Homo sapiens: one gene and its partner. The protein of the gene in region 1 purifies or fractionates together with the protein of each later gene. This does not show direct contact. Each region holds a gene or a part of one and is shown on either strand. Other genes may lie near its edges.

The links. The genes of interacting proteins can lie anywhere in the genome.
Region 2: the proteins of TUSC1 (region 1) and PRMT8 purify together in Homo sapiens (co-immunoprecipitation; one large-scale study listed by IntAct). This does not show direct contact.

What each region holds. Positions count from the first base shown.
Region 1 is NC_000009.12:25,676,469-25,679,884, reverse strand, and holds TUSC1 (tumor suppressor candidate gene 1 protein), read left to right. Parts: upstream 1-1,440; 5' UTR 1,441-1,572; coding exon 1,573-2,202; 3' UTR 2,203-2,916; downstream 2,917-3,416.
Region 2 is NC_000012.12:3,497,703-3,501,202, forward strand, and holds part of PRMT8 (protein arginine N-methyltransferase 8), read left to right. Parts: intron 1-3,500. UniProt on the Homo sapiens protein: S-adenosyl-L-methionine-dependent and membrane-associated arginine methyltransferase that can both catalyze the formation of omega-N monomethylarginine (MMA) and asymmetrical dimethylarginine (aDMA) in proteins such as NIFK, myelin basic protein, histone H4, H2A and H2A/H2B dimer.

The DNA.
Region 1 (3,416 bases):
GCCATTGCACTCCAGCCTAGGCAACAAGAGCGAAACTCCCATCTCAAGAATGATATGCTCCTTTTTTTTTTTTTTTTTTTTTTTGAAAAGGAGCCTTGCTCTGTCGCCCAGGCTGGAGTGCAATGACGCAATCTCAGCTCACTGCAAACTCTGCCTCCCGGGTTCAAGTGATTCTCCTGCCTCAGCCTCCCGAGTAGCTGAGACTACAGGCCCGTGCCACCACGCCCGGCTAATTTTTGTATTTTTAGTAGAGACGGGGTTTCATTGTGTTAGCCAGGATGGTCTTGATCTCCTGACCTTGTGATCCTCCCGCCTCGGCCTCCCAAAGTGCTAGGATTACAGGCGTGAGCCACCACGCCCGGCCTGGAATGTGGTCCTTCTTAAAACTAAATTTATATTTTTTGAAATTCCAAAATTATATCTTTCATGTGATAAAATGAGATAATTGAGAACACATTTGGTGTTGTGGTCTCTTAAGATCTTGCCTAACAAAATAAAAGTACAAAAAAATTGAGCAAATATTTTCCCCTTATTTGTACTTGTCAATGAAGACCCCATGTATGTACTTATATGTTTTTCTTGTTCGTTACTTGCTCCAGTGGTTTGGAAATTTTGGTTATCCTGAGAATTCTCTGGGACCCTGTTAGACATGTAGATTCTTGCTAGGGCATACTTGCTTAAGAGATTCTGGCGTCAGTACCTAATCCTTAAATTACTTTGCAATCATCCAGTTACTATGTAGGTTGAGACCCTACAAGAAGGAATGATTCATTCAATGAGATGTACATCCTTGATCCCAGAAACTTTGGAACTAAGTATTCAGTTTCTTCAATAAACAGAGCACTTCTTGTTTCATAGCTTTTGGGGGTTGGCCTGAACAAATCAACTAAGTATGACCTAGTTTCTATAGCGTTCTGAACAATTTACAGAGTGAATTCCTGGCTGTTCACAAATTGGGAATTGACTGCATTCTTTGGAGAGCCAGGTGTTTCCACCGGGAAACCCCATGACAGGTACTCAGCCCAATTCTGTTTAATGTTTTATTAAACATAGGGGTGGGTTAAACCACTGGGTTTTAAATGAAGCACTTAGAGCTTTTCAACTTGCCCCATAGCTTTGTCTCAGAACCGATCATTCTATTATCATTAGTTTTGAGAATGCCGTGTAAAGAGCAAAGTAACCACTGGTGGTTGCACTCCGGAGCGGGCGAGGACGGCTAGTTCCTGCAGTGCCCAGGCCTGCACGGAAGCGCCCTGGCACAACTCAGCTGAGGATACACGCTTTTTCCCGCGCAGCCGGAGGGCTGAACAGCAAAGCACTCCCCGGGGGAACTGTGTGTCAGCGCAGCCTGGAGAGAGCAGGCCCAGGGGGCAGCTCCACCACAGGAGACAGGACACGCCTCAGTCTGGGCAAATTCCCGGCCTCCTTTGGCTCTAAGCCAGCAGCCGCCGCCCGCGACCTCCTCTCCTCCTCCGTCGTCACCCCGGCCGCCCTGCCAGCCCCGAACTTGCCCGCGCCTGGCCGCGCGGCCCCTCAGCCCACGGGGCTGGCGGCGCGGTTGGGATGGGACCGATGTGGCGCATGCGTGGTGGCGCCACTAGGCGCGGGAGTTGCTGCGGCGGGGACGGTGCTGCGGACGGCCGAGGGCCAGGCCGCTCCGGCCGGGCTCGTGGTGGGGGCAGCCCCAGCGGCGGCGGCGGCGGCGTGGGCTGGCGAGGCCGCGCGGACGGCGCCCGACAGCAGCTGGAGGAGCGGTTTGCCGACCTGGCGGCGAGCCACTTGGAGGCCATCCGTGCGCGGGACGAGTGGGACCGGCAGAACGCGCGGCTGCGTCAGGAGAACGCCCGGCTGCGGCTCGAGAACCGGCGGCTGAAGCGCGAGAACCGCAGCCTCTTCCGTCAGGCTTTGCGGCTCCCCGGCGAAGGCGGCAACGGGACGCCCGCGGAGGCACGCCGGGTCCCTGAAGAGGCCAGCACGAACCGGAGGGCTAGAGACAGCGGCCGAGAGGACGAGCCGGGCAGCCCCAGGGCCCTGAGGGCCCGACTTGAGAAGCTGGAAGCCATGTACCGCCGGGCCCTGCTGCAGCTGCACCTCGAGCAGCGGGGACCACGTCCGAGCGGGGACAAGGAGGAGCAGCCTCTACAGGAACCCGACTCCGGCCTCCGCTCCCGGGACTCGGAGCCCTCTGGGCCCTGGCTGTAGCCGAGGCCGCAGCCGGTGAGAGGCGGAGCCTCGAGCGGGCCCCTCCTCCTCCGTTCCCAGCTACCCCCGACCTCGCGCACGCCCTGGCCCGCTCCCTGCCCGCGGATACCTTGGACTACGGTGCCTTCCCGCCCCCACCAGTGGACACTTCCGGGTGGCGCTTGGCCATCCGCTTGGTGGAGGTCGAGTGGGTGCAAGGGCCCTCAGGACCTCCCACATGTACAGTTCCCCTGCCTCTTGCCCCGGCTAGTTTCCCTGGAGAGAGGCCTAGCCAACAACGAAGGGACGGATTTTAAAACAGCGAGAACTGGGTGCCAAGAAACACTTCATATTCCCTGAACTTTTCTGGATGTTGTGCGAACCTGTTGTATTTTTTTTTTTCCTGTATTTTGGTTCTGAGGGATGAGTAATGTGTTTTTAGTTGGTTGAGTTTATCCATTCTTCAATCCCCTAAAGCCTTCAGCTATTCTTTCATATGTGGCCAACATTTTAAGTACAGTGTTTGCTTTTATAAGTCGGTGTTACTTGGATGTCCTATAAAATACCCACTTTTTATAAAGATGATATTTATAACCTAGGAACTCATGCCTGTCTTGGCTGCAGTCCCTGTACATCTAATATATACTGATTTGTTTGCCCCCAGAGAATTTTTAAGGTATCTGCCTATATCGTGATCTTTTGAAATGGTAAATAAATCTGGTGCATTAAAAATTATCTGAAAGGTTGCGGCGAGTATTATTTGAAGTGTGTTACATTTTTATATTTTTAAAAAGATACCTTTATGAATATACTAATTTAAATCTGGTTTTAGTTGTCCTTAGTAAACTATCATGTTCTTTTAGCTTCATGTAACAGTGATCTTTTAAAATAATCTAAAGATTAGGTAGTCTAAAAGTTATTTTAATCTTTAATGTTCAATTAGCTTAATTAGTACGTAGATAATTTGCCTTATTTTGACTAAGGACTTTTAAGAAATTATAAATTACTTGTATATCAAAAGTTCCCCTAACAAAGTAATTTAAGTCTCAGTTGTTATTTCAATGGCACAAAAAAGTGACTAGTTTAGCAATAAATGTCCTAAAATTACTTTTATTGCGCTTCGTTAATAACACTTTTGCCAACTAAGTAATGAAGAGGATACCATTGTGCCTGATAAAAAAATCATAGGTCCAAGAGTGTTTCAATGATGGAAAACATTTCAGGGGAAAAAATCA
Region 2 (3,500 bases), on another chromosome or scaffold:
TCACTTGTTATAAGAATTCCCTCAAGCATCACAGTTTTTCCCATATTTGTAATGAGTGGCCCATAAGTAAAGATCTCTTTTTAAAGTGTAATTTTATATTGAGCAAACAGCTTGATGTGCGTATTTTCATAAAGTCATAGAATGTTAAAGTTGGGTGGAAACTCAAATCACTTAAGTCAGGAGATAGGAACTACTTGTCCAATATCACAGAGCTCTTCCGTGTTGGGGTCAAGATCCTGTGGACTCCTGGGTCTGTGCTCTTTATACCTCCTTTAAACGTAGCATCTCATTTATTGTTTTTATTTTTTGTGCCAACTTTCTGGTATATCCTGATCTGTACTGTCTAAGACCAGTGTTTCTCTGCATAAGGTCTAGGAATTGTGCATAGTGAGAGCTCTGACCTTCTTGTAGAACTTAAAATGCTCGCTTATTACATTGCATTGTGTGCAATGCTGTGAATTACATATATCCCCATTGTATGGATTAATAAACTGAAGCACAGAGAGTTACTGTTATTTGCTCAAAATCCCACAGCTGGTAAGTGATGAGGCTAGAGCTCAAAGTCTGGTTTTCTAATCACCAAAATGCTTTTTCTAGTCCGCTAGGCTGCGAAGGCATGAGAAGAACCAGAGTACAAACTTAAAATGTGAAGAGAAAGGGTGGAGAAATTAACAGCAGGAATGTGGAATGGTGAATTTGGAAGAAGCCTAGGAAGAGACACCAGCCCAGCTTTCCTTTTTCCAGGACGTCTTTTCTTGCTTCCACCGCCATCTTGCCATCCTCACTTTCACAGTCTCCAGTACTGTGCCGTGTGAGTGACAGGGGCCTGACATAATTGTGGCAGGGACAGCCATCACCTCACTCTCCCTGCGCATCTAAACTATCCCTAGGCGTGGGTTCCTAGCTGGACCCAGTAGACAATGTACTTGTCTAACAAAGTATAGCTCTTCGGAAGCTTGACCCTAGGCCATCAATATTAGATCTGGACTCTCATCCAGCTACTTTATTGGGATAAAATGAATACTAAAGTCTCCAGGACAGGAACTTTGTTTCTTAAAATTTATCTTTGTAGTTTCATCACCTGTATTACCCTCCTAGGTCTGCTGTAATAAAGTACCACAAACTGGGTGGCTTTAAAACAACGAGATGTCTTCTTCCACAGTTCTGGAAGCCAGAAGTCTGAAATCCAGATGCCAGCAGGGTTGGTTCCTCTTGAAGTCTTCATGGAGAATCTGTTCCTTGCCTTTCTTCTGGTTTCCCGTGGTGGCCAACGATGCTCAGCCTTCCTTGGCTATAGACACATCATCTGGTCTCTGCCTTCATCTTCACAGGGCATTCTTTCCTGTGTGTGTCTATACGTCTTCTTATAAGGACAACAGTCTTGTTGGATTAGGGGCCACTCTAATCCAATATGACTTCATCTTAACTTGATAACATCTGCAAAGACCCTATTTTTATTTTTATTTATTTATTTATTTTTTTTTTCCTTTCTTTTTTTTTTTTTTTATTATACTCTAAGTTTTAGGGTACATGTGCACATTGTGCAGGTTAGTTACATATGTATACATGTGCCATGCTGGTGCACTGCACCCACTAATGTGTCATCTAGCATTAGGTATATCTCCCAATGCTATCCCTCCCCCCTCCCCCCGACCCCACCACAGTCCCCAGAGTGTGATATTCCCCTTCCTGTGTCCATGTGATCTCATTGTTCAATTCCCACCTATGAGTGAGAATATGCGGTGTTAGGTTTTTTGTTCTTGCGATAGTTTACTGAGAATGATGGTTTCCAATTTCATCCATGTCCCTACAAAGGATATGAACTCATCATTTTTTATGGCTGCATAGTATTCCATGGTGTATATGTGCCACATTTTCTTAATCCAGTCTATCATTGTTGGACATTTGGGTTGGTTCCAAGTCTTTGCTATTGTGAATAGTGCCGCAATAAACATACGTGTGCATGTGTCTTTATAGCAGCATGATTTATAGTCCTTTGGGTATATACCCAGTAATGGGATGGCTGGGTCAAATGGTATTTCTAGTTCTAGATCCCTGAGGAATCGCCACACTGACTTCCACAATGGTTGAACTAGTTTACAGTCCCACCAACAGTGTAAAAGTGTTCCTATTTCTCCACATCCTCTCCAGCACCTGTTGTTTCCTGACTTTTTAATGATTGCCATTCTAACTGGTGTGAGATGATATCTCATAGTGGTTTTGATTTGCATTTCTCTGATGGCCAGTGATGATGAGCATTTCTTCATGTGTTTTTTGGCTGCATAAATGTCTTCTTTTGAGAAGTGTCTGTTCATGTCCTTCGCCCACTTTTTGATGGGGTTGTTTGTTTTTTTCTTGTAAATTTGTTTGAGTTCATTGTAGATTCTGGATATTAGCCCTTTGTCAGATGAGTAGGTTGCGAAAATTTTCTCCCATGTTGTAGGTTGCCTGTTCACTCTGATGGTAGTTTCTTTTGCTGTGCAGAAGCTCTTTAGTTTAATTAGATCCCATTTGTCAATTTTGGCTTTTGTTGCCATTGCTTTTGGTGTTTTGGACATGAAGTCCTTGCCCACGCCTATGTCCTGAATGGTAATGCCTAGGTTTTCTTCTAGGGTTTTTATGGTTTTAGGTCTAACGTTTAAATCTTTAATCCATCTTGAATTGATTTTTGTATAAGGTGTAAGGAAGGGATCCAGTTTCAGCTTTCTACATATGGCTAGCCAGTTTTCCCAGCACCATTTATTAAATAGGGAATCCTTTCCCCATTGCTTGTTTTTCTCAGGTTTGTCAAAGATCAGATAGTTGTAGATATGCGGCATTATTTCTGAGGGCTCTGTTCTGTTCCATTGATCTATATCTCTGTTTTGGTACCAGTACCATGCTGTTTTGGTTACTGTAGCCTTGTAGTATAGTTTGAAGTCAGGTAGTGTGATGCCTCCAGCTTTGTTCTTTTGGCTTAGGATTGACTTGGCGATGCGGGCTCTTTTTTGGTTCCATATGAACTTTAAAGTAGTTTTTTCCAATTCTGTGAAGAAAGTCATTGGTAGCTTGATGGGGATGGCATTGAATCTGTAAATTACCTTGGGCAGTATGGCCATTTTCACGATATTGATTCTTCCTACCCATGAGCATGGAATGTTCTTCCATTTGTTTGTGTCCTCTTTTATTTCCTTGAGCAGTGGTTTGTAGTTCTCCTTGAAGAGGTCCTTCACATCCCTTGTAAGTTGGATTCCTAGGTATTTTATTCTCTTTGAAGCAATTGTGAATGGGAGTTCACCCATGATTTGGCTCTCTGTTTGTCTGTTGTTGGTGTATAAGAATGCTTGTGATTTTTGTACATTGATTTTGTATCCTGAGACTTTGCTGAAGTTGCTTATCAGCTTAAGGAGATTTTGGGCTGAGACGATGGGGTTTTCTAGATAAACAATCATGTCGTCTGCAAACAGGGACAATTTGACTTCCTCTTTTCCTAATTGAATACCCTTTATTTCCTTCTCCTG